4 linked regions of the Homo sapiens genome follow. The protein of the gene in region 1 interacts with the protein of each later gene in a pairwise test. Each region holds a gene or a part of one and is shown in the gene's direction. Other genes may lie near its edges. The genes, in order: PROM1, CXCL14, TMEM230 and AIF1L.

What was found.
Region 2: the proteins of PROM1 (region 1) and CXCL14 interact in a protein complementation assay, tested with the Homo sapiens proteins (one study listed by IntAct).
Region 3: the proteins of PROM1 (region 1) and TMEM230 interact in a protein complementation assay, tested with the Homo sapiens proteins (one study listed by IntAct).
Region 4: the proteins of PROM1 (region 1) and AIF1L interact in a protein complementation assay, tested with the Homo sapiens proteins (one study listed by IntAct).

Annotation. Positions count from the first base shown.
Region 1 is NC_000004.12:15,969,000-15,976,029, reverse strand, and holds part of PROM1 (prominin-1 isoform 1 precursor), read left to right. Parts: intron 1-4,947; coding exon 4,948-4,963; 3' UTR 4,964-4,987; intron 4,988-6,661; 3' UTR 6,662-7,030. UniProt on the Homo sapiens protein: May play a role in cell differentiation, proliferation and apoptosis. Binds cholesterol in cholesterol-containing plasma membrane microdomains and may play a role in the organization of the apical plasma membrane in epithelial cells.
Region 2 is NC_000005.10:135,570,155-135,575,997, reverse strand, and holds the end of CXCL14 (C-X-C motif chemokine 14 precursor), read left to right. Parts: intron 1-1,312; coding exon 1,313-1,426; intron 1,427-4,129; coding exon 4,130-4,145; 3' UTR 4,146-5,319; downstream 5,320-5,843. UniProt on the Homo sapiens protein: Potent chemoattractant for neutrophils, and weaker for dendritic cells. Not chemotactic for T-cells, B-cells, monocytes, natural killer cells or granulocytes. Does not inhibit proliferation of myeloid progenitors in colony formation assays.
Region 3 is NC_000020.11:5,103,075-5,110,104, reverse strand, and holds part of TMEM230 (transmembrane protein 230), read left to right. Parts: intron 1-659; coding exon of another isoform or gene 660-674; coding exon 675-773; intron 774-3,794; coding exon 3,795-3,917; intron 3,918-7,030.
Region 4 is NC_000009.12:131,106,529-131,113,558, forward strand, and holds part of AIF1L (allograft inflammatory factor 1-like), read left to right. Parts: intron 1-5,068; coding exon 5,069-5,135; intron 5,136-7,030. UniProt on the Homo sapiens protein: Actin-binding protein that promotes actin bundling. May neither bind calcium nor depend on calcium for function.

The DNA of each region.
Region 1 (7,030 bases):
AATGTTGGACGTCCTTCCTTAACGGTCCACAGCACACTTGAATTTTTTTCTACTTTCTATATTCTGTGTTCTATAGTAGAACTCCAAGGGTGGGTTGAAGTGTTTTGTTTCAGTAAGAGAAGAATCCCAAAGACTGAGTGACACCTTATGTGAGTTTCGCTGAAGCATCTTTCATGGTAACAATTAAATCGAGACTTGTTTTCATTCCTGCACACCCACCTCCAGTGGGAACCCTGGCAAGTCTCCTGGATGTTCAGCCCGTCTACAGGCAGTCAGTGAAGAATCATAGTTTTGATTTGGTTTATTTGCAGAAGGTTAGGAAATGACATCCCAGAAACTCTAGGGACATTGGGACACCTTTCTTTTCCACCCAGACCCTCCTAGAGGTCCCAGGGGTCTGAGTTGGAGTGGATTCTAGCTCTGCCTCCATGTGTCATTGTGGAAGTGCTATTTAATGTCCTTGAGACTCAGTTTTCTCACTTGTAGAAGGAGGGAATAATAAGAGCTTTGAGGCTGGGTGTGGTGGCTCACGCCTGTAATCCCAGCACTTTGGGAGGCCAAGGCAGGCAAATCACAAGGTCAGGAGTTTGAGACCAGCCTGGCCAACATGGTGAAACCTCATCTCTACTAAAAATACAAAAAATTAGCTGGGCGTAGTGGCGGGCACCTGTAATCCCAGCTACTTGGGAGGCTGAGGCAGGAGAATCGCTTGAACCCGGGAGGCGGAGGTTGCAGTGAGCTGAGATTGCACCACCGCACTCCATCCAGGACGACAGAGTGAGACTCCGTCTCAATAAATAAATAAAAATAAGAGCCTTGTTTGCGTAGGGTTGTGAGGGTTCAATGAGGTAACAAGGCAAAACATTCACCCTTTGACCACTGTAAACCCTTACTTAAGGGTTTGTGGTTCACTATAATGACCATAATCTTTTCTTATTACCTTAACATTTCCAATGGAAGGAACCCAAAGGTGATTCAGAAGATAACTAAGTGTGGCTCTAATCTGTTAGCTGAGCCAGCTCCACTTAGCTTCCATTGATGACACCAACTGGGCTCTGGATATTAGCCGACACCTCATGATACCTTCTGTACAAATGAGCCCGAATTGGTGCCTCCTTCACACAGCTTGAGACTGTGATTTCCCCCAGTGTTTATCGCCAACAGTTTTCAGGTGTTGCCTGCATTTCAGGACAAAGCTAGGTTTAGGAGGAAAATGATCAGTGCAAAGAGAAGGTGCTAGGCTATTCTAGAAAAGACTCTGGCTGATGCGGTGGCTCACGCCTTTAATCCCAGCACCTTGGGAGGCTGAGGACAGAGGATCACTTGAGCCCAGGAGTTCAAAACCAGCCTGGGCAACACAACAAGACCCTGTGTTTATAAATGAAAAAAAAAATTATTTAATGTAAGAACAAAAGAAAAGCCTTCTGCAAACCAGGACACTAGTACTTACCAAGTGAGGAGCAGTTTGACAACTAATATTGCTTCATGGAGCGTTTCCCAGGAGAATTCTCTTAAATAAGAACCATGAAGTGGGCTGCTTCTGAGTGGCAAACTCAGTTTCATAAACTAGTTTTTTTTGGTCTCTTTTTCTTTTATTTCTATTTATTTCTTAAACACACACACGCACACTGTAATTAGTCCATTATACAGTCTGTGGCTGTTTGCTTTTGTTTGAAGGAAAAGTTAATAGACTTTCATATAAACCTACGTAAGCCTGGATTTTTTTTTTCCAACGATGCTTCTGTCTCCCACAGTCTGCGGAGCAAGTGGAGGCATTTTCATTTCAGGAAATATTGGGTGACTTGTTTCTGAATCTTCTTCCTGGCCTTTCATGGATCACTAGAGGTCACTCGGATTGTGATCTTTCAGCTGCTAGGGAGTTCTTTAGAGAGAGAGAGAGAGAGAGAGAGAAAGAGAGAGAGTGTGTGTGTCTGTGTGTGTGTGTCTGTATGTGTGTGTGTAAACTTACTCTTTCTAGCTCTGAGATGAGAGATCAGGAGAGAAAGTTGCTTCCTGTGAGACCACAAAGGCTTGAGAGCAAACAAACACCAGTGTTGGTCCAGCAGCCCCAGGAACCGGGCAGGATGACCACCCTGCCTCATCCTGCGCAGTCCCCACATCGGCCCTCTATGGCTGTCGTCACCGCCTTGTTGTCTGTCTTTTGCAGATAGACTCAGGGACGTGTAGGCCATGCCCAGGTCTCTACAGCTAGCCAGGGCCAAGCTATGATTTGAGCTATTTCTCCTATTCTCCCAAAGGCAGGTGGGCAAAGAAAAGTTCCCAAAACGGGTGGAAAGACCACAGAAAAATTTGATTATTTTTCCCAGTCTTCACTCTGAAGACTATCAAATTGGCAGAAAGGGGAACAAATAAGAGGCAAGTGTTGCTAGAAACTCTATCTGAAAAGGACAGAAATCTGATTTTCATATGAAATTACCCTTTTTAATGTTAGCAAACAATGTGGAGAAAAAAACACCATGGGGGCCCAACAAAATATGTCTGTGAACCACCTTCTTGCTAGTTCGGCTGTAGATGGTGTTCATTGTGCATGCTCTGTAGATTCTTTGCTGTTGTTGTTGTTTGAGACACAGATTCCACTCTGTCACACAGGCTGGAATGCAGTGGTGTGATCTCAGCTCACTGCAACCTCCACCTCCTGGGTTCAAGCGATTCTTGTGCTTCAGCCTCCTGAGTAGCTGGGATTACAGGCACACACCACCGTGCTCAGCTAATTTTTCTGTTATTAGTAGAGATGGAGTTTCACTATATTGGCCAGGCTGGTCTTGAACTCCTGACGTCAAGTGATCTACCCAAATTGCTAGATTACAGGCATGAGCCACTGCGCTTGGCCAGATTCTTAGATAGAAGTAGGAGGGGTCCGCATGGCTGCACCTCTGCAGCCTAGAGGAGGAAGCAGGTGGATCCCGGGGAATGCTACATAAACAGCAGCTGACCCTCACCTGTGTAGGTTCTGGCTGCATAGGTCTTGTAGAGGGTGCTTGGAGCCCCTTCCCTTGTGTGATGTTTCAGGTTCTTCGGGGGCCAGGACCTTCCTTTTTCTGTGAAGGGGATAGTGCATCATTGACAAACAGATTCCACCTCCTGGGCCAACTTCTCTCTGTTGTCCGGCTGCTCAGAGCCCTGTTGTGTTGTGTTGATTGAAATCTGGAGGTTTAATCCAGACTGACTCAAAAGTACTGTCATCAGTGTGTGATGTCTACTCTGGAGACAGGAGAGTCTCAGATGTCATGTATTGGCCTTCTTTATTTTATTGCTTTATTGTGTTGGGCACCCAGGAAGTTATCATTCAGAGCCCAAATCCTAATGGCCTGAAGAAATGTATCCTCCAGTTATGGTCTCACCTAAGGCCCTTTGTTTCTCTTACATCAGGAGCTTCCAGGATTAGTTTTAGTTACTTGCTATAGTTTCAGTGTCCCCTCCAAAACTCATGTTGAGATTTAATTGCCATTGTGACTATATTAACAGGCGAGACCTTGGACAGGTGGTTAAGTCATGAGAGTTCTGCCTTCATAAATGGATTAATGCCATTATCATGGGAGTGGGCTCCTGATAAAAGGAGGAAGCTCGACCCCATTCCCTGTCTGTCTCTTGCACTCATTTGCCCTTCCATTATGGGATGATGCGTCATGAAAGCCCTCACCAGATGCCAGCACCAGGTTCTTGGACTTCGTGGCCTTCAGAACTGTGAAAAACATATTTTTTTCTTTGTAAGTTACCCAGTCTCTGATATTCTGTTATAGCAGCAGAAAACATACTAAGACACTGCTTAAATTGGCTTGTTTTGCTCATTTCCTGCTTCTGAGGTCTCCAGAGTTCCCTCTCTTCCAGGATAGGATGGATATACTGTCTGGAGGAGAGGCAATGCTAGGCAGGAGGAGAAGAACCAGTGATCCTGTTAGTGTGCCCAGCATCCCTCTGCTCAATAAGGCAAATGTAGATGTTCTTTGGAAATGATTGCCAGAGCCTACAGTCCTTCATAATGTTCAGCTCCAGGTCCTGGTGAGGTGGACAGTAACAAGAGATTGAGCCAGCCCCTGCTTGCACCCTTTTCCAGGGGCCCTTTGAGCCCTTTCGATAAAGAGTTTGTTTCTTTACCGAAAGCATAAAAGGTAGTGCAAGAAGAGGCACACAGAACCAAGCATGTGCACTTTCTAAAGTGAAAAACTTTAGAAGGAATGTCTTGCCTGGCAGATGCCCTGATGTCCTCCGTGCATGTCCTCCCCCAACCTCATGTGTCTGATGCAGCACTGCAGTGAGGCACGGTGGATCCTGCAGGTTCAGAGGGGTTGTGATCCACCTGAAGTCACAGTCGGGCAGGGTGTGCCAGAGTTGAAACTGCCGACCTTCCAGATGGAGTTCACTAGTCTCCCCCTGGCGTATACCTTTTTGGTTGTCAAGGCCATTATCACAGAGTCACTTTAGAGGACACTAGGGCTACTGTTGATGGTTCACCCAGAGAGCCACTTAGAGGCCGTGTGCACTGCCTGATCTTACACCCAGGAATTTGTAGTTGTAACAAGGTCCCTGCGGAACTTCCATTTGCTTCTGTCTTCTGTCCTAGAAGTGGACTTTAGAAAGACTCTTGTGGTAGACATGTGTACTGCTGTGTTGCTGCTGGTCTAATGTCTTCAACACGTATTCTTAGTGACTCTTAACACTTTTAACCTTAGATTGTGAATATTCACAATTCTTACTTGTCATAGTCTGTTTATCCTCTTTATCTTCTATGCTGTTTTTAAAAGCAATACAAACAGAAGCTAGAGTAACCAGTGTTTTGTCTGACACATTCTTCTTGATAAACTTTATGAGGTGTGGTTTATATTCGTCTGTACCTTTAGTCACATGCCTGCTTCTTAGCACAGAGGTGATGAAACCACCCACAGCTTTGTTGGGGGTATTATATTTCTTTATTTTTTTGTTTTTTAGCCCATCACAACATTGATAGCTGATGTTGAAACTGCTTGAGGTAAGTTTGATGCTTTCATTGAAGAGAATCTACAGGACTATAGTTTTTAGTTTTTAGAACATCAAAACATAGCTATTCCTAATACATTGCCACATTAAGTGGGAAATCTAGATCAGCATATTAGACAAGATATTTTATATGTCCAGTCCACCCTCTGTACCTGCAGGTTCCACATCCACCGATTGATTCAACCAACTGTGGATCAAAAATACTCTAAAAAAATTTTTTTTTAAATAACAGTACAAAAATAAAAATAATAAAAACAATACAGTATAACAGCTACTTACATAACACTTACATTGTATTAGGTATTTTGAGTGATCTAGAGATGATATACAGTATGTAGGAGGATGTGTGTAGCGGTCCTGGAACCAATCCCACATGGATCCAGAGGGACGACTGCATGTATACATACGATACAGTGACCCTCTCTGTATATATATGCATTGCTATATAAATGTGTGTGTATTTATATATATATATACACACACACAGTGAGTATGTGGGTGTATATTAAAAAAATAAAATTTTTTTACTTAAAAAGATAAGATTTTTTAAGTAAAAAAATAAGGGCTGGTGCGGTGGCTCACGCCTGTAATCCCAGCACTATGGGAGGCCGAGGCGGGCAGATCACTTGAGGTCAGGAGCTCAAAACCAGCCTGGCCAACATGGTGAAACCCTGTCTCTACTAAAAAAAGTTAGCCGGGTGTGGTGGGGGGCCCCTGTAATCCTGCCTGTAATCTCAGCTACTCAGGAGGCCAAGGCAGGAGAATCGCTTCAACCTGGGAGGCAGAGGTTGCAGTGAGCCGAGATCACACCACTGCACTCCAGCGTGGGCAACAGAGTGAGACTCCATCACAAAAAAAAAAAAAAAGAAAAGAAAAGAAAGTGTTTTTTTAGAGTAAAACAATAAGCCAGGCATGGTGGTACCTGCCTGTAGTCCCAGCTACTGGGGTGGGAGGCTGTGGTAGAAGGATTGCTTGAGCCCAGGAGTTCAAAGATGCAGTGAACCATGATTATACCTGTGAATAGCCAACACACTCATGCACTCCAACTTGGAAAATGTAGTGAAACCCTATCTCTAAACAAACAAACAAACAAACAAAAATATAGAAATCTGTGTACCAACCACGTACCTTGAGTATTATGGACTTAAAATTTTTTCTGGCTGGGCATGGTAGCTCATGCCTGTAATCCCAGCACTTTGGGAAGCTGAGGTGGGCAGATCACTTGGGGTTAGGAGTTCGAGACCAGCCTGGCCAACATGGAGAAACCCCATCTCTACTAAAAAATATAAAAATTAGCCAGGCATGGTGGCAGGTGCCTGTAGTCCCAGCTACTTGGGAGGCTGAGGCTTAAACCCGGGAGACGGAGGTTGCAGTGAGCTGAGATCGCGCCATTGCACTCCAGCCTGGGCGACAGAGTGAGACTCCCTCTCAAAAAAATAAATAAATAAAATAAGATAAATAAACAAAAACCACAAAGTTTTTTTCTATATTGCTATATTTTAACAGATTGCTTTGCAACAAACATATTGCTGTGCCTCTTGAACGAGTTTATATTTTCCTTAGTTCTTAGGCTCCTGGTGGGGACCATTTTAGGATTATGCATTCCTGGTTTTCTCTTTATTAATTCAAAAGCAATTTCTAAAATTGTGTTTAACTTTCATTTCAGCATCAGGATACTCAAAGTGGAAAGGATCACAGATTTTTGGTAGTTTCTGGGTCTACAAGGACTTTCCAAATCCAGGAGCAACGCCAGTGGCAACGTAGTGACTCAGGCGGGCACCAAGGCAACGGCACCATTGGTCTCTGGGTAGTGCTTTAAGAATGAACACAATCACGTTATAGTCCATGGTCCATCACTATTCAAGGATGACTCCCTCCCTTCCTGTCTATTTTTGTTTTTTACTTTTTTACACTGAGTTTCTATTTAGACACTACAACATATGGGGTGTTTGTTCCCATTGGATGCATTTCTATCAAAACTCTATCAAATGTGATGGCTAGATTCTAACATATTGCCATGTGTGGAGTGTGCTGA
Region 2 (5,843 bases), on another chromosome or scaffold:
AATGGGAATCCTGTCCCTTCTAGAACTTAGCCCATATAAGCCATGACATTTTCCATTTGGTTAACAGTGGGGAACTAGCTGACCTCTGTCCCTCTCTTCTCACTCTTTCCACTCTCACTTCCAGTCTCCCCCTTTGCCCTCCAAGCCCATTCCAGCACCCCAGTCTACCATCATGGCTTGCATGGCTGTGACCCCTCAAGAAGTGGCATCCTCACCTCTCACCTTGCACTTTTCCAAATACCCTAGGTGGTCTCTTATTCCCCACAACTCCTGTCATGCCTGTGGCCTAGAGGTGCTCAGAAGTTCTGAGCAGCAGGCTTGCCTCGCCCTCCAGGCTGGAGCCCCCACAGCAAGGCTACTCTTTCCCCTTGGCCACTTCATCTTCCATGACCAATGACTAGTAACAGTAACTGTTAATTGTGCATCTACCAGGTCCTGGGTACTTTCTAAAGATTGTATCTTTTAATCATCCCAATAACCCTGTGAGATAGTCCTATTATTATACCCATTTTACAGATGGCCAAACTGGATTCAGAGAGGTTACCCAAGGTCCCACAGCCAAATTTGAGATTCAGTCCCAGGCCCTTACAGTCTGCACAACACCTGCTTCTCTACCACATGGCTAGGCTTCTGCTGGGTGTTGGGACATTGGCTGATAGAGGCCTGAGATCTTCAGGCTGTGCAGAAGAGAGGTCTTACTCTTCTGCTTAGGGGTGAGATACCTGGGACCTCCCACAAGGCCAACAAGACTTTGCCTCAGGATCAGGAGATGCCCAGCCCTGGGACAATCTGTGGTGGGTCAGAGGGAACTGGGGTTGAGGAGACAGAAATCAGAGTGTCTGCGGGGCATGTCTGAGCCTTGCCATGAGCTCCTCAAATCCAAGGACAGAGGTTTTGGCATGTGCACCTTGCTGGCATTAGCTTTCTCCACCTCCTGATCCCAGGCTCAGAGAGGCTGGGAGTCCTCTGACCTTTGTTCCCCAAAAGAGGCCTGAGCCCTGGAGACAACACACTGCATGAGGTTGGGGGTGGGAGAGACCATCCCAGACTCTCAGGACTCCCAGGGGAAAAGTGAGGGCTGCTCACTACATACAGGGTTAGGCCCTAACATGGAGTCAGAGAATAAGGGGACAACCAGAACCTTCCAAAGAGCCAGCTTGGAAGTGAGCACACAAGTCGGCTCCCTTGAGAGGAGGCAGGAAGCCACAGTCTCTCAGGGCCCTGACTTAGCCCAGGGCTACTCACAGGCCACACAAGAGGCAACATGTTATTCAGGCTCCTCAACCCTCCACCTCATCCTGCTCCGTTTCAGCATCACCACCAAGAGCGTGTCCAGGTACCGAGGTCAGGAGCACTGCCTGCACCCCAAGCTGCAGAGCACCAAGCGCTTCATCAAGTGGTACAACGCCTGGAACGAGAAGCGCAGGTACGCCCCGCCTCTACTCACCTTCCTTCCCACCAGACCCAGCTGTGGCTCTCAGGATGGGAAGGGACCCCCCCACCAGGTCATCTAGCCCCATCTAATATGTGAACACCCACCACAACATCCACAGCAAACAGATACTCAGACAATGCTTACATACCCCCAGGGACAAGGAACTCACCACTTACCAAAGCTAGCTATCCATCTCTTGTCCATTTGCAAGCATGGCAGGTTTGTCATTTTGTAAACTAAAGTCTGTCTCACTCTAATATTTGCATTATAATCTTAATTCCTCTTTTTATTTCAGTTACGTAAGTTGTTAAATGGCAGAGTGAGCACTGGCATGGCTGCCAGGGGAGCTCTGAGGACTTCAGTGGGGTGAAATGTGACCACTTAGGTGACTGTGTATGTTGGCTATAAAACTGCGCTATAAAACCATGAGGTGCTGAGGATGATCCTTGCCAGAAACATGTTTTCTTCTCCAAGGTGCCCCACTCCCTCTGCTGCCCAGAAACCTGATAAACTCCTTCCTTCGCAGGTGCTGGAAGGCACCACAGGTTTGGCTCTTTAAAATCAGAGCCACTGTTAACCAAGGCGGGCAGCAGTGTTAAGACCACCAGCACCCTGAACCAGCCCTGTACTTACTGGGCACTGTTTCCTTAAAATCAGAAGGTGGCTTCCCATCTCTGGTTTCCTGGGGTCTTATGTCTGTCCTCGGAGGGAGAATCCAGTTCCTAGCTCCCCTGTACCATGCGAAGGTAGCCTGTCCTGTCTCACTCCTCAGATACGCAGAGTCTGTTTACACATTTGCCTGCATAGCATGATCAGGAAGCACACACACACACACACACACACACACACACACGCATGCATGCACACACCATGCAGGTGACTTCCCCAGGAACTAGTGCCAGCACCCCTGCTGCAGAGGGGGATATCAAGGCTAAATGGAAGAGAGGGGTGACTTGCCTGGGAGCACAGGGCAAAGCCAGGACAGCAAACCAGGCCTCCTGGTGCTACCCCACCAGCTGCCCTCACAGGGTGGAAGGTACAGCCATAGTGGGTGCCTGCATTGCCCTCCCCTCACCTGGCCCAGCCATGCTACCCCAAGCTCAGCCCTGTGACCAGCTCTCCCAGAGCTGACACTCGGGCTCAACCCCTATACCTGAGCCTTTTTTGCTGCCTCCAAAACAGCCTCATCTGCAGTTGCTTGAAATAGAAAGTGATGAGAGCAATAAATTATTTTCTATAAATCTGCTGGGAATGAAGCCCTCTTTCTGGTCAAGCCAGGCAGCTCATGTGGCAAAGGCCAGAACTGCGCAGTCCACACTCTGTCACCCTCCAGGCCCTGTGTCATCAAAACTGGCAGAAGGCTAATCCCATGGGCAGGTTATGGAAGAGGCTGAGGGCATCTTGATCTGATTGCTGGGGGATACTCAAACCTTTAGCTCACCTTGCTTCTCCCCTCCACCTGAGCTGCAGCCTGGAAAAGGAGGCACCCACAGGTCTAAACATGGCCCTGCTTTTTTTTTTCCTGAAAATTCCAATAACAAAAGCAACGAGAGCCTCTCACTACCAGGCCTTCTCTCACTTTGCTATAAAATTAGTTCACCCCTCTTTCTTAGAGTGTTGAGGTCCCTGCCCTCCCCACCTCCCTCCCCTGAAACAAGTTGAAAATATCTTAATGAACATAGAACAGTGATAAAGGAAGTGTTTGAAGTCCTCTTTGTACAGAGAGAGAGAGAAAGAGAATGCCAAAGCTAGGTTGGAGGAAGTAGAAGGGTATACGGTGGGCTCAGGCCCATGGGGGCCACACAGAGGAGCTCTGTGCACTTCAGAGACCAGAGCTTCCAGGGAGCTTCTGGCCACCACAGGAAGCAGCCTAGTCAGGCATTTTATTTCAATGGATAATTCAGTGGTCTTACTCAGAAATCAAGAACGAGACAGAAAAGTGATAGGCTAAGTGTAACGTATGGCCCCAGGGCAGCCATGGGGCAGAACTAGAAGAAAGCAAAATATCTAACTGGGCACAGCTTGAGAGGTGAGGGGAAGGTGGGGCTGGGAACGAGTAGAGATGAGGCAATGCAGCCAGGAGCAGGGACTGAGGGGCACAGGCCTCCTGCACCACTGCCCCACCCCACCAACCACCTCTTCTGTCTCCAGGAAGCAGCTTCTAGAGCTAGCATTCTTCTGGAGGACATGCATTATTTGGGCAAAATACAAAGAAATATACAAGCCTAAGTCAAGTAAGGGAATGCCTCCCACCCTTGCTATTTTCTCTAAATAGAGAGGCTGAGTACAGACGCGGAAAGAAACAAGGAGGTGTGGGAGCAGCCCGCCATGCTAGAGAAAGACTACATTCCTGCCACTAACAGTCGGTGGCCACTGGGCAAATCTTAAGTCTGTGGTGCCTCAGTTTCCTCATATGCAAAGCGGGTTTGTTCCATAGGCCTCTGAGGACAAAATGAGATTGCAGAAGTGAGATTGCAGATGGTTAGAAAAGACAAAGCCACACTGGTGTGAGTTTTCATGGTCCCCGGGACCACATCCTCAGAAGGATCCCTCCCACTTCTCCTGGGGGTTCCTGCAGTTCTGGGACAGGGGCATTCCCTGCAGACCAGACGTGAATGAAGCCGCTTAGCCAGCATCTTGTGAACGGCCTGCCTCATGTCCTGAGCCACTTACACATGTGTTTTTTCTCCCCAGGGTCTACGAAGAATAGGGTGAAAAACCTCAGAAGGGAAAACTCCAAACCAGTTGGGAGACTTGTGCAAAGGACTTTGCAGATTAAAAAAAAAAAAAAAAAAAAAAAAAAAAAAAAAAAAAAAAAAAGCCTTTCTTTCTCACAGGCATAAGACACAAATTATATATTGTTATGAAGCACTTTTTACCAACGGTCAGTTTTTACATTTTATAGCTGCGTGCGAAAGGCTTCCAGATGGGAGACCCATCTCTCTTGTGCTCCAGACTTCATCACAGGCTGCTTTTTATCAAAAAGGGGAAAACTCATGCCTTTCCTTTTTAAAAAATGCTTTTTTGTATTTGTCCATACGTCACTATACATCTGAGCTTTATAAGCGCCCGGGAGGAACAATGAGCTTGGTGGACACATTTCATTGCAGTGTTGCTCCATTCCTAGCTTGGGAAGCTTCCGCTTAGAGGTCCTGGCGCCTCGGCACAGCTGCCACGGGCTCTCCTGGGCTTATGGCCGGTCACAGCCTCAGTGTGACTCCACAGTGGCCCCTGTAGCCGGGCAAGCAGGAGCAGGTCTCTCTGCATCTGTTCTCTGAGGAACTCAAGTTTGGTTGCCAGAAAAATGTGCTTCATTCCCCCCTGGTTAATTTTTACACACCCTAGGAAACATTTCCAAGATCCTGTGATGGCGAGACAAATGATCCTTAAAGAAGGTGTGGGGTCTTTCCCAACCTGAGGATTTCTGAAAGGTTCACAGGTTCAATATTTAATGCTTCAGAAGCATGTGAGGTTCCCAACACTGTCAGCAAAAACCTTAGGAGAAAACTTAAAAATATATGAATACATGCGCAATACACAGCTACAGACACACATTCTGTTGACAAGGGAAAACCTTCAAAGCATGTTTCTTTCCCTCACCACAACAGAACATGCAGTACTAAAGCAATATATTTGTGATTCCCCATGTAATTCTTCAATGTTAAACAGTGCAGTCCTCTTTCGAAAGCTAAGATGACCATGCGCCCTTTCCTCTGTACATATACCCTTAAGAACGCCCCCTCCACACACTGCCCCCCAGTATATGCCGCATTGTACTGCTGTGTTATATGCTATGTACATGTCAGAAACCATTAGCATTGCATGCAGGTTTCATATTCTTTCTAAGATGGAAAGTAATAAAATATATTTGAAATGTACCAAAATTCTAGACTGCCACCTTTTTTCTATTTAATTAAGCTAGGATGACAATAAAATGTTTACCATGTCCTGAAAAAATAAGGACAAATATGCTGGGAAAGAAAACTGGTATTTCCCAAATACCTGTCAACACCATCACCTCTGTGGAACGTGTGGAGCTGTCATTACAGTCAGGAAGCCAAGAAGCCAGGCCTTGAGGCTAAGGCTCCTTCCCCGACGATTCCTACCCCTGCAGCAGGTGTATCAGAGCAGGCAGGTTGGAGCACAGGGAACTAGAGGGTCACGATCCCAGCCTCCTCCACGCAAGACCACACTGAGCCTCAGCACCAGAGGGCAGCAAAGAGGCTGGATGCCTCAGCCAAGGGCTCTCCAAGTTCCCTGGGGCTGCATAAGGACGGCAACAATAGAGGACTGGTGTAATTATTGCCTACTGTGAGCCAGACCCTGTGCGGGGAGCCTTACATGCCCTATCTCTTTGAATCCTGGTAACAACCACAACGGGGGTGGTTCTATTGAAGCTCCATTTTAC
Region 3 (7,030 bases), on another chromosome or scaffold:
AGCCTGTGTGACAAAGCAAGACACCGTCTCCAAAAAATACAAACAAACAACAACAACAAAAAAACCCCACAAATTTACGGCAAGAAACTTTACAGATCTTTTGCATTAAAAGGTTGATCTCTATCAAGGGGAAATAGGCAAAATGCTGATGTGAGTGTATTCCATTCTCTGCCCTCTTCTCCCTCCCTGTCAAACAAGAGAATCATTTGAGTATATGCTCCTCTTGCTTTTTCTTAAGAGCGGGAGCAGGGGACAGGCAATGCTGTGGTGTCAGGTGGACCTAGATTTAAGTCCCCATTATTCTACCTAGTCTCTATGTGACTTTGGAAAAATTAAAAGTCAGGGAATCTTGGTGGCAAAATAAACTGGAATGTGATTCTTGGTGAGTGTCTTCACTGTCATTCTACAAGGACAGACCAGACTAGATATTTAATACATAGTGAGAATCTTTTCACTGTGTCAGAGGCATATCTGGTTTTCCATATGCATATGCCTCTGACACAATGAAAATTTAGCAGTGAAGTGTAAATTGCCCATTGCTAGTCTGACATGGCAGCCCAGAACTCCAGTGCACAGCATCTAATAATCCTGAACTCATTGGCTATAATGCACCATTGTCATCTACAGACAATAACGGGTTTTTTGTTTTTAAACTGTAGCTGTGTCAGCGTGTTATGATGCCGTCCCGTACCAACCTGGCTACTGGAATCCCCAGTAGTAAAGTGAAATATTCAAGGCTCTCCAGCACAGACGATGGCTACATTGACCTTCAGGTAAATGCAGAAGAGAACTGACAAGACTGACTGGCTGTGTTTCTGTTAAGTTAGCAGGAAGACCTTCCAGATGGAGATTTTGCTAACTGTCCTTGGGGATTAGAAGGAGCAACAAGAAGAAAACTCAGCTCTGAGACCCTTTCAGCCATAATCGCAGAAGAGGGCCGTGGCAGGGTAGTTTCAAACCAATTCCAGTATTGTCCATTTCTAAGAATTTTTAGTTGTAATGCGAGAGCCTTGTAGTTACAGGTTTTATTTACTTTATTCAGAAACTAATCAGATTGTGTTTTGTTAAGTGGAGTTTTTTGTTGTTGTTTCTTTTTTTAAGGAACTTTAAAATTTTTGTTAGGTGGAATTTTTTTTATCACTGTTTATTTACACTTTAGTCAAAGCCCGTTCACCTTTTAAGGGAGAAACTTATTACTAAAGCCAGCAGATTGTGGGAATCTTCCTTCTTTCCTGATGTCATGAGATCCAATTTATTAAAGGTATTCTTTGTGATAAATAGTAAGTAAAACACAGTATTTATTAAGTTTGTATCCTACCCTAACCATTTATAAACTAGTCAATACTACAGCATCTCCTTTTGCACACTTCCCCTTACAATAGAATGTTCTACGTGGAACTAGGGCCAACGAGGAAGTAGCAGGAAACCATCCTTTATAAATAAATAAATTACTCTTTGGACCCACATTTGAAGGAGAGATAAAAATAGATCTGGAAAGATCTGGGAAGCTTCCAGCCACTTAGGTCAGATACAACGATGAGCCAAACCTTGGAAAATTTGTCTCTGAATCTTAACCTTGAATTGAATTTGTTCATAAGGCAGGTTTACTTGCTATGTGGAACAAACAACTAATCATTTGGAATAAGCTGAAATTGCCTTCTTTTCCTTTTTTTTTTTTTTTTTTGGAGACGGAGTTTTAGTCTTGTTTCCCAGGCTGGAGTGCAGTGGCACAACCTCGGCTCACTGCAACCTCTGCCTCCCAGGTTCAAGCGATTCTCCTGCCTCAGCCTCCCAAGTAGCTGGGATTACGGGCATGCGCCACCACGCCCAGCTAATTTTGTATTTTTAGTAGAGACAGTGTTTCTCCATGTTGGTCAGGCTGGTCTTGAACTCCTGACCTCAGGTGATCATCCTGCCTCGGCCTCGCAAAGTGCTGGGATTATAGGCGTGAGCCACCTTGCCCAGCCTCTTGTTTTGTTTTGTTTTGTTTTTAAGATGTAGTCTTGCTCTGTTGCCCAGGCTGGACTGCAGTGGTGCAATCCTGGCTCACTGCAACCTCCCCCTCCTGGTTCAAGTGATTCTTGTACCTCAGCCTCCCTAGTAGCTGGGGGATTACAGGCATGCACCACCATGCCTGGCCAATTTTCGTATTTTTAGTATAGATGGGGTTTCGCCATGTTGGCCAGGCTGGTCTCGAACTCTTAACCTCCAGTGATTCACCCACTTCGGCCTCCCAAAGCGCTGGAATTACAGGCGTGAGTCACCGCGCCCAGCCTTTTTTTTTTTTTTTTGAGACAGGGTCTTGCTCTTTTGCCCAGGCTTGGGTACAGTGGCACAATCAAGACTCACTGTAACCTTGACCTTCTGGGCTCAAGTAGTCTTTTCACCTCAGCCTCCTGAATAGCTGGGACCACAAGCATGTGCCACCACACCCAGCTAATTTTAAAATTTTTTGTAGAGACAGGATCTCTTAAATCCCCATAAGTTAGTACAGCCATCTATGTGCCAGGCAGTTAATAAATATATATCTAACAAATGAATGACTGTAAAGTCATTTCTGTTTTTGTTTTAAAGAAAAGTTTCTTATGATACAATGAATGATTTATGGAATGAGATTCGAACTAGAGTGAATGACATTCCTCTGAGATTCCTTTGAGTAACTGTGAGAGCAATAACTAGAGCTTCATCTCTTGCCAGTCCCTTTTATTTCTCAGAGCTGCACTGGGTGGTAGGACATACTTAAGACACATAAAGTATCTAGTTTGGTTCTTAATTACCCTCCTGTTTTTGCTGTTGTTGTATTTGAAACAGGCTCTGGCTCTGTCACCCAGGCTGGAGTGCAGTGGTGCAATCTCAGCTCGCTGCCTCTTCACCTCCTGGGCTCAAGCCATCCTCCCAGCTTAGCGTCCCAAGTAGCCGGGACTGCAGGCACATGCCACCACGCCCGGCTAATTTTTGTATTTTTTGTAGAGACGAGGTTTCACCATGTTGCTCAGGCTGGTCTCAAACTCCTGAACTCAAGTGATCCGCCTGCCTCAGCCTCCCACATTGCTGGGATTACAGGTGCGAGCTCTCCTCCCTGTTTTAAAGTGTTTGAGACTGGGCTTGATGGCTTATACCTGTAATCCCAGCACTTTGGGAGGCAGAGGTGGAAGGACTCCCTTGAGCCCAGGAGTTGGAGACCACCCTGGGCAACATAGTGAGACCTCGTCTCTACAGAAAAATTTAAAAATTAGCTGGGCATGGTGACGTATACTTGTAGTCCCAGCTACTTGAGAGGATGAGGCAAGAGAATTGCTTGAGCCCAGGAGTTCGAGGCTGCAATGAGCTGTAATTGCACCACTGCACTCCAGCCTGGGTGATAGAGCAAGACTCCGTCTCTAAAATCATAAAAATTAGGCCGGGCGCGGTGGCTCACGCCTGTAATGCCAGCACTTTGGGAGGCCGAGGCGGGCGGATCACCTGAGGTCAGGAGTTCAAGCCCAGCCAGGTCAACAAGGTGAAACCCTGTCTCTACTAAAAATACCAAAAAAATTAGCTGGGTGTAGTGGCGGGCACCTGTAACCCCAGCTGCTCAGGAGGCTGAGACAGGAGAATCACTTGAATCCAGGAGGCAGAGGTTGCAGTGAGCCAAGATCACGCCATTGCTCTCTAGCCTGGGCAACAAGAACGAAACTCCATCTCAAAACAAACAAACAAAAACATAAAAATTACAAATAATTAATTAAATGTTTGAACCCAGGTATTTGCATTAATGTTCTTCGTTGTCTTTTTCATCTCTATTTCTCTTCCAGTTTAAGAAAACCCCTCCTAAGATCCCTTATAAGGCCATCGCACTTGCCACTGTGCTGTTTTTGATTGGCGCCTTTCTCATTATTATAGGCTCCCTCCTGCTGTCAGGCTACATCAGCAAAGGGGTAAGCTGACGGGCATGTGGGAATAAGTTGTGAGATTTTTAAAATGTTAGCCAAGGCTCTAGTGTGCGTGTGTGTGTGTGTGTGTGTGTGTGTGTGTGTGTGTGTGTGTTTGTCCGTCCCAGTGGTCTGTTTTTTTTGAGACAGGGTCTTGCTCTGTCATCCAAGCTAGAGTGCAGTGGCACAACCTTTACCTCCCTGGGCTCAAGCGATCCTCTCACCTCAGCCTCCCGAGTAGCTGGGACTACACGTGTGTGCCACCACACCCAGCTAATTTTATTTTTTATTTACTTATTTTTGTTTGTTTTATTTTGTGTAGAGACAGGGTTTCACTATGTTGCCCAGGCTGATCTCTAACTCCTGAGGTCAAGCAGTCTGCCTGCCTCAGCCTTCCAAAGTGCTGGGATTGCAGGTGTGAACCATTGCCCCTGGCCAATTTTTTTTCCAATTTTTATGGGTACATAGTAGGTGTATATACTTAGGGGATACATGAGGTATTTTGATACAGCCATGCATTCATAATAATCACATCAGGCTAAATGGGGTATCCATCCCCTCAAGCATTCATCATTTGTATTACATTCCAATTATACTTTTATTTATTTATTTATTTTGAGACAGAGTCAGGCTGGAGTGCAGTGGCATAATATCGGCTAACTGCAACCTCCGCCTCCCAGGTTCATGCTATTCTTGTGCCTCAGCCTCCCGAGTAGCTGGAATTACAGACGTGCGCCACCGCACCCGGCTAATGTTGGTATTTTTAGTAGAGATGGGGTTTCGCCATGTTGCCCAGGCTGGCCTCCCAAAGTGTTGGGATTACAGGCATGAACCACTGTGCCTGGCCTATTTTTAGTTATATATATACATATACACATACATACATACATACATATATATATATTTTGGAGACAGAGTCTTGTTCTGTCACCCAGGCTGGAGTGCAGTGGCAGGATCTCAGCTCACTGCAAACTCCGGCTCGTGGGTTCAAGTGATTCTCCTGCCTCAGCCTCCTGAGTTAGCTGGGACTATGGTGGCAAGCCAGCACACTTGGCTTATTTTTGTATTTTTAGTAGAGATGGGTTTTTGCCATGTTGGCCAGGCTGGTCATGAACTCCTGACCTCAAGCGGCCTGCCCGCGTGGGCCTCCTAAAGTGCTGGGATTACAGGCGTGAGCTACCACGTCCAGCCTTAGTTATTATATTTTTAAATGTACAATAAATTATTCTCTAGTCACTTTGTGCTATCAAATACTAGAGCTTATTCATTCTATGTAACTATATTTTGTACCCGTTAACCTTCCCCATTCCCCCCTACCTTTCCCAGCCTTTGGTAACCATCATTCTACAATATCCATGAGTTCAATTGTTTTAATTTTTAGTTCCCGCAAATGAGTGAGAACATGGAAAGTGTGTCTTTCTGTGCCTGGCTTAATTTCACTTAACATAACGTTCTCCAGTTTCATCCATGTTGTTGCAAGTGACAGGATCTCATTCTTTTTAGTGGCTGAATAGTACTCCATTGCATATATGTACCATATTTTCTTTATTCACTTGTCTGTTGAAGAACACTTTGGTTGCTTCCAGATCTTGGCTGTTGTGAATAGTGCTGTCATAAATATGGAAGTGCAGATACCTCTTTGATAAACTGATTTCCTTTCTTTTGGGTATATACCTAGCTGTGATTGCTGGATCATATGGTAGTTCTATTTCATACTGTTCTCCATAGTGGCTATACTAATTTACATTCCCATCAACATTGTACGAGGGTTCCCTTTTCTCCACGTCCTCGCTAGCATTCGTTATTGCCGTTTTTTTTGGATAAAAGCCATTTTGGCTGGGTGCAGTGGCTCACGCCTGTAGTCCCAGCACTTTTGGAGGCCGAGGCAGGAGGATCACTTGAGCCCAGGAGTTCGAGACCAGCCTGCGCAACATAGCGAGACCTTGTGTCTATATTTTTTAAAAAGCCATTTTAACTAGGATGAGATGATATCTCATTGTAGTCTTGATTTGCATTTCTTTGATCAATGATGTTAAGCACCTTTTCATATACCTATTTGCCATTTGTATGTCTTCTTTTGAGAAATGCCCATTTTTGATTGGATTATTAGATTTTTTTTCCTACAGAGTTTGAGCTCCTTATATATTCTGGTTATTAATTCCTTGTCAGATGGATACTTTGCATATATTTTTTCCCATTCTGTGGGTTGTCTCTTCCTTTGCTGTACAGAAGCTTTTTAACCGGATGTGATCTCATTTATCTGTTTTTGTTTTGGTTGCTTGTGCTTTTGGGGGCATTACTCAAGAAATCTTTGCCCAGTCCAGCATCCTGGAGAGTTTCCCCCATGTTTTCTTATAGTAGTTTCATAGTTTTAGGTCTTACATTTAAGTGTTTAATCCATTCTCATTTGATTTTTGTATATGTCAAGAGATTTGAGGGGTCTAGTTTCATTCTTCAGCATATGGATATCCAGTTTTCCTAATACCATTTATTGAAAAGACTGGTTCTTTCCCCAGTGTATGTTTTTTTGTTTTTTGGTTTTTTTGTTTGTTTTTTTTTTTTTGAGACAGAATCTCACTGTGTCATCCAGGCTGGAGTGCAGTGGCACCATCTCGGCTCACTGCAACCTCAGCCTCCCAAATAACTGGGACCACAGGCATGTGCCACCACACTTGGTTAATTTTTTTTTCATTTTTTGTATAGATGAGGTTTTGCCGTGTTGCCCAGGCTGATCTCGAACTCCTAGACTCAAGCAGTCCAGGAGTACAGTGGTGTGATCACAGCTCTCTGCAACCTCAATCTTCAGGGCTCAGTCGATCCTCCCACCTCAGCTTCCCAAGTAGCTGGAGTTACAGGTGTGAGTCACCATACCTAGCTAATTTTTTTGTTTGTTTGGTAGAGATGAGATCTCATTATGTTGCCCAGGCTGGTCTTAAACTCCTAGGCTCAAGCAATCCTCCTGCCTCAGCCTCCCAAAGTGCTGGAATTACAGGCTTTAGCCACTGCACCCCTCTGACTATGTTTCCCGTTGTGTGTTAATTATGGTCAGTGTGAGGCCCACCCTAGCCTCCCAAAGTACTGGGATTACAGGCGTGAGCCACCACACCCGGTGGATGTAG
Region 4 (7,030 bases), on another chromosome or scaffold:
TCCTAGCACTTTGGGAGGCCGAGGCAGGCAGATCACTTGAGCCCAGGAGTTTAAGACCAGCCTGGGCAACAGAGGGAGACCCCATCTCTACAAAAAATACAAACATTAGCTGGGTGTGGTGGCATACACCCGTAGTTCTAGCTGCTCTGGAGGGCTGAGGTGGGAGGATTGTTTGAGCCCAGGCAGGTCGAGGCTGCAGTGAGCTGTGATCGTGCCAACAAAGAATAAATAGGGTCGGCCGCATTGAGAAGGTGACATTCGGCCGCATTGAGAAGGTGACATTGAGGCTGGGTGTGGTGGCTCACGCCTGTGATGCCAGGAATTTGGGAGGCCGAGGCAGTCGGATCACCTGAGGTCAGGAATTTGAGACCGAACTGCTCCATATGGTGAAACCGCATCTCTACTAAAACAAAAATTAGCTGGACGTGTTGGTGCGCACCTGTAGTCCCAGCTACTGGGGAGGCTGAGGCAGGAGAATTGCTTGAACTCGGGAGGGGGAAGTTGCAGTGAGCTGAGATCGCGCCACTGCACTCCAGCCTGGCGACAGAGTGAGACTCCGTCCCAAAAAACAAAAATAAAACAAAACAAAAAAGACAAGGTGACATTGAGCAAAGGCTTGAAGTTGGTGAGGGAGAGAACCACGCAGATCTGTGGACTCCAGGCAGGGTGCACAGCTAGTGCAGGGTGCAGCCCAGGGCAATCTTCCCAACCACTGCTGCCGTTCATGCTGTGCACGTGGCCTTGCTCTTCATCCCTGCCTGGTTGGTCTGTGTCTGTCTGTGTGCAATTTGTCTCTAAGGCCAGGGACCATGTCCTTCCACTTGCACCCATCCACCTACAGAGTGGCCCAAGTAAAACTGGATCTCTAGGGCTGGTCGGTCCAGGCTGAGGCAGGATTTCTGGTCAACCAGACCCCAGGGGCTGGGACAGCCCCTCCAAATCTCTCCCCAGAGGTTCCCAGATGTTGGTGCTCTTGTGCCTCCCCAGGAAGGTTCTCTAGTTCTTGGTAAAGTGAAGGAAATGCAGGGTCACTGTGGTGAGTTGGACCTAGGCTGAATGGATTCCATTTAAACATTCAGAGATGGTGAACTTCCTACTTTTATGAAATGTTCTTTTCTGAACTCATGGCAACAGTCAATGGCCATTGTTTAAAAAGTCTTTACTTGGCAAAATAAAAAGTTGGCACTCGTATATTAGTGCGCCCCTCTGCCCCGCCTTTAAAAATGTTTCATGTCTGCGTGACCCCAAAGTCTGGGAATCACTGATCTAATATGTCCCTTCACTGGGCAGATATGGGATCTGGGACCCTGGGAGGTGCCTGGTTTGCTCACAGTCACAGACAAAAGTTAATTGTCCTCCTTTTGGGCAGAGGATGGGGTGAGGGAGCAGTGCCGAAGAGCTATGAGAGGGAGCCAAGAGGAAAGGAAGTCCTCGACAGAGCCAACTAGGAGGAGGGCGGCCTCCCAGGCTGCCGAAGAAGGATCCAGCGTCAGCTAAGTGGAGGCGGGGCCGTGCCCAGTGCATTGCAATGAGGCCTGGAGTGAGGCTGTGGCCAAGCCAGCAAGACCCCATAGGCCCTGGGACTGCCCTCTGCCCAGGTGCAGGAGGACACAGGTCCTGGAGTCAGATAGACCCAGGTTCGAAACCAACCTTCCTTAGCTGTCTGTGAACCTTTTTTTTTTTTTTTTTTTTTTTGAGATGGAGTCTGTGGCCCGGGCTGGAATGCAGTGGCACAATCTCGGCTCCCGGCAACCTCCACTTCCCAGGTGCAAGTGATTCTCCTGCCTCAGCCTCCCAAGTAGCTGGGATTACAGGCACACGCCCCCATGCCCGGCTAATTTTTGGACTTTTAGTAGAGACAGGGTTTCACCATGTTGGCCAGGCTGTTCTTGAGCTCCTGACCTCAAGGGATTTGCTCACCTCGGCCTCCCAAAGTGCTGGGATTACAGACGTGAGCCACTCACTGCGTTTGGCCTGTCTATGGACTTTAGATGTGGTATTTAACCCCTCTCATCCTCATGTTTTAACTTGTAAAATGGGAATAATAGTGGCTGTGAGGATTTAGTGAGATAGCACAGTGTCTGCTACAGCCAATGTTTTACCAAAAGCTACAGGACAGCCAGACCCCTCTCCCAACCCAGTGAGGGAAGCCCTGTTGCCAGGTAGGTTTCTCCTGTGGTCAAGGGGTGCTGAGTTAATGTGGAGAAATTTGAGCCATAGAAGAGGCCATATTCTGCCTCATACTCATAATCTTATCTGTTGCTCATTGAGAGCTGAACTATGAGCCCAGTGCCCAAGGAGTGGGTACTATTGAACCTATTTTAGAGCTAGTAAAAAGGGAGACTGAGATCCAAACCCAGATTGCTTTATAGTCAGTTAGTTCTTGTCATCCTCTATTCTGCTTGAAGCCTCTTAGGAGTTTGCAACAATAGACTAGGAAGGTAGTGAGTTCTCTGTCCTAAGAGATATGTAAGAACAGACTTGGCCATCATGTATTAGGAAGTAGGTCAAGTGATTAATGTGGGTGACATTGCACATCATTTTAAACACCAGCTTTCTGTAATTTCAGGATAAGGACCTTGTCATATTCACCATGGTCTCCTCTGCTCCCTTGATGCTAGCACAGTGAGTGCTGTGTGCACTGTGTCCCCCCAGAATGTTGAATGAGTGAATGAATGAATGAATGAATGAATGAAGGAGCAATGTCCATGTCCAGTGAGCTCAGTAATGAAGAATGGAAGGTCCACTGGCCGGGCTCAGTGGCTCACACCTGTAATCCCAGCACTTTGGGAGGTCGAGGTGGGCGGATCACATGAGGCCAGGAGTTCAAGACCAGCCTGGCCAACATGGTAAAATCCCGTCTCTACTAAAAATACAAAAATTAGCCGAGCATGGTGGCACACTCCTGTAGTCCCAGCTACTTGGGAGGCTGAGGCACAAGAATCATTTGAACCTGAGAGGCAGAGGTTGCAGTGAGCCAACATTGCGCCACTGGACTCCAGCCTGGGTGACAAGAGCGAGACTCCGTCTCAAAAAAACAAAAACAAAAACAAAAAAAGAATGGAAGCTCCAAAGAAGAGGGGTTATTTGCAGAGTTCGAGTGGTAGGAGGGGAACAGGCCCTGTGCTTCCCCATCTGAATACAGGTTCCAGGGCTGCTGAAAGATTAGCCGCAAGATACATAAGTTACCTGGCACTGTATCTGGCAGGTGTTCCCTCATTGGTCGCTTTTTGCTGTAAGGTCAGAGACCAGGCCAGATGAACACCTGCAATCTGCCCACCTTTAAAGAATGTAGGGGCTAAGGATGCAGGCTCCAAATGAGATGGAGCCGAGTTGAAGCTCTGGCTTATGAGCCTCAGTTTCCTCACCTGCAAAATGGGTATAATAATAGTAGCTACTGGCCGGGCGCCGTGGCTCACACCTGTAATCCCAGCACTTTGGGAGGCCGAGGCGGGCAGATCACTTGAGTCCAGGAGTTTGGGACCAGCCTGGGCAACAGAGTGAAACCCTGTCTCTACAAAAAATACAAAAATAAGCCAGCCGTGGTGTGGCGCCCATCTGTAGTCCCAGCTACTCAGGAGGCTGAGGTGGGAGGATCACTTGAGATCGGGAGGCGGAGGTTACAGTGAGCTGAGATTGCATCACTGCATTCCAGCCTGGATGACAGAGCAAGACCCTGTTTCAAAATAATAATAACAATAGCTCCCTCTTGGGACTCCTAGGAGATGTGAAGAGATCACATAGGTAAGGGCTTCACCCTGGAGGCCATTGTTAGTGTCCAATCCTCCCCACCCTGCCCATCTGGTCCTGAAAGGACTCATTTGAGTCTCTCCAAGCATCTGAAGGGAAGGCAGGCCAGAGATTAAAACCCCCATTTTACAGGTGAGGAAACAGGTGAGAGGGTAAGTGTACAGTCATTTTCCCGTTAGAGCAGAGACGACGAATTCACACTCTCACTGGATTTCTTTTTTCTTTTCTTTTTTTTTTTTTTTTAAGATGGAGTCTCTCTCTGTCTCCCAGGCTGGAGTACAGTGGCATGATCTCAGCTCACTGCAACCTCCACCTCCCAGGTTTAAGCTATTCTCCTGCCTCAGCCTCCCAAGTAGCTGGGATCACAGGTGCCCACCTCTATGCCCAACTAATTTTTGTATTTTTATAGAGACGGGGTTTCACTATGTTGGCCAGGCTGGTCTCGAGCCCCTGACCTCAGGTGATCGGCCCACCTTGGCCTCCCAAAATGCTGGGATTACAGGCGTGAACCGCCGCACCTGGCCTCACTGGATTTCTATACAAACTCAAGAAGCAGATCATGATTCTCATTTGGTAGATAAGGCAATAGAAGTGTGGGGAGGGCCGGGCGCGGTGGCTCACACCTGTAATCCCAGCACTTTGGGAGTCTGAGGCGGAGGGGTGGGAGCGGGGGGATCAACTGAGGTCAGGAGTTCGAGACCAGCCTGGCCAACATGGTGAAACCCCGTCTCTACTAAAAATACAAAAATTAGCTGGGCATGGTGGCAGGCGCCTGTAATCCCAGCTACTGGGGAGGCTGAGGCAGGAGAATCGCTTGAACCCAGGAGGTGGAGGTTGCAGTGAGCTGAGATCGCGCCATTGCACACCAGCCTGGGGGACAAGAGCAAGACTTCTTAAAAAAAAAAAAAAAAAAGTGCACGGAGGAATGAATGAGCTCAGGATCACATTCCTAAGAAGTTAATGATGGAACCAGGGGCTTGTCTTTGGAGCTCACAGCTTCTCGGATCTGAAGCTGGGGTGTCTTGGGGGAGGGGCACGGGTCCCAGCATTGGTAATGTAGCTGCTGGCTGGAGGGCTTAGTCACCCGTAGTGAACCCTCTGGGGCCTCCCCAAGCTGCTGGGCAAACTTCCTACCCACAGGGTGGCCAGTGCAGATCTGCCTCCAAGGGGCGACAGGAAGCCGGGGTGAACAAGGGACAAACTGGGTCTGGTCGCACCTGGTTACCCGATAGGAGGGAAGGCCCCCGGACAGTGGGCCCATGTGTGGGTGACTTCTGTCCCCAGTCCCTTGCTCAGCACTGTCCTCTCACCTCTGTAGGAGTTTCTGTGTGACCAGAAGTACAGTGATGAAGAGAACCTTCCAGAAAAGCTCACAGCCTTCAAAGGTAAGCTGGGGCGGGCTGCCCTGCATTTATTCCTGGGGGAGGTGGGCTGGCCCCTCATCCTTGCACACAGGACCCCTCAGCCCCACAGGACTAGGCTGTGGCCCTGTTTTGTCCAGAATGCCCTTCTTCCTGGAGAAGGCTTGGAGACAGGGACCCCCTGAGAGGTGGGGAGAGGCCCCTCCACCTGCCTCCCTGCCCCTGCGGGCCCCGTCACCCCTCGCCTGCAGCCCGGTCCTGGCCCTGCCCCTCTCTCTCCCCTCACTGCCCACGGGGCTCAGGCTGGTTCCCGTCCGCCGCTGCCCAGGCCCCGTCACTCCCGGGCCCCGCACACAATCAGCTCTTTGTGAGCAAGCCTTGCCTCTCCCCCTCCCCAGCAGAGCGTCTCAGGAGCCCCTGCGGAGAATGGACGTTTGTGTCACCGCAGTGGGGCAGGGGGGCAGAGTTTCTGCCCATTGAAACCCGGCAGCACGGGATGAAAAGAAAGCAGGGCCTGGGAGCCGGCGCGGGGAGAGGGGCAGCATAAAGGTCCCTCTGTTTGGGGCCCTGGCGCTTGGTTCCCAGCCAGCACCTCGAAAGGAGAGGAGCCGGGCACATAGGGGGCAGCGCAGACCCACCTTCCCTGCCAGGGGAGGCACTTAGGCGCAGGAGCCCTGGGCTGTCATGGAAAATATCCTGGAGGTTGCATTCCCCTCCAAAGTGTTTGCAGTGTGAGCATCCTCCCGGCTCCAGGGCAAAGAACTTGGCCAAGTGTTCCTCAAATCACTTCCAGTTGTCCTTAGGCTGGACATCTAGGGCTAATCATATTAATAACAGCTGGCATTTGTTGGACGTCGGCCTGTGTGAAGCACTTCTCGTGCGGCGTGGCGAGCTCCCCACATCACCCCAATCGGCCTGGAGGAAGATGGCGCACTTGTTAATGTGCAGATGGAGAAACTCGGGCTTGGAGGGCGGGGTTGTTGGCATGGGGACACATAGCTCGCCTAGGGCAGAGTTGGGACTTGAACTCATGTCGGTCTGGCTCCAAAGCCCCTGCTCTCAACTGTTACGCTATGATGCTTTTTACATGAAGAAGAGAGAAGGGAAATAGTAAAAGACACTCCTGACCCCACCCCATCCCAGCCACCTGTAGGAGAGCTGTGAAAAAGAGAGCAGTCTATTCCCTTCTGTCTGCATACCAGCGTGGCCACTCCCAGGGGTGGCTCTGGGAGGAGGCACGGGTCTCAGGGCTCTGGCACCCTTTCTACTTGTCTTCACTGGAATGTTGGGCCAGACAGGAAGTTACATCATTCACTCATTTGTTCTCCAAATGCGCACCTGTACATGTGCCAGGACCATTCCAGGCCAGGGGCACCATGGTGAACGTAAAAGGCAGCTCCCACCCGGGAGCCTGTGTTCTCGCTCGGGGGGCGGTGTGAGAGGTGGTGGGAGACTAAACAGAGAGCCGGGAAATACAAGGTTAGCAGACTGTGGTAGGTGCTTCAGTGAGAAATGAGGGAGGGAGGACAGGAGTGCTCAGCTGTGGGGAGGGGGTGCAATTTTGAAAGGGTGGGGAGGCCAGGCACGGTGGCTCACACCTGTAATCCCAGCACTTTGGGAGGCCGAGGTGGGTGGATCACCTGAGGTCGGGAGTCCAAGACCAGCCCGGCCAACATGGCGAAACCCCATCTCTATTAAAAATACAAAAATTAGCTGTATGTGGTGGTGGGTGCCTGTAATGCCAGCTACTCGGGAGGCTGAGACAGGAGGATTGCTTGAACCCAGGAGGCAGAGGTTGCAGTGAGCTGAGATCAAGCCACTGCACTCAAGCCTTGGTGACAGAATGAGACTCCATCTCAAAAAAAAAAAAAAAAAAAAAAAGCATAATGGTTAAGAACGGGGGCTTTGGAGCCAGACTA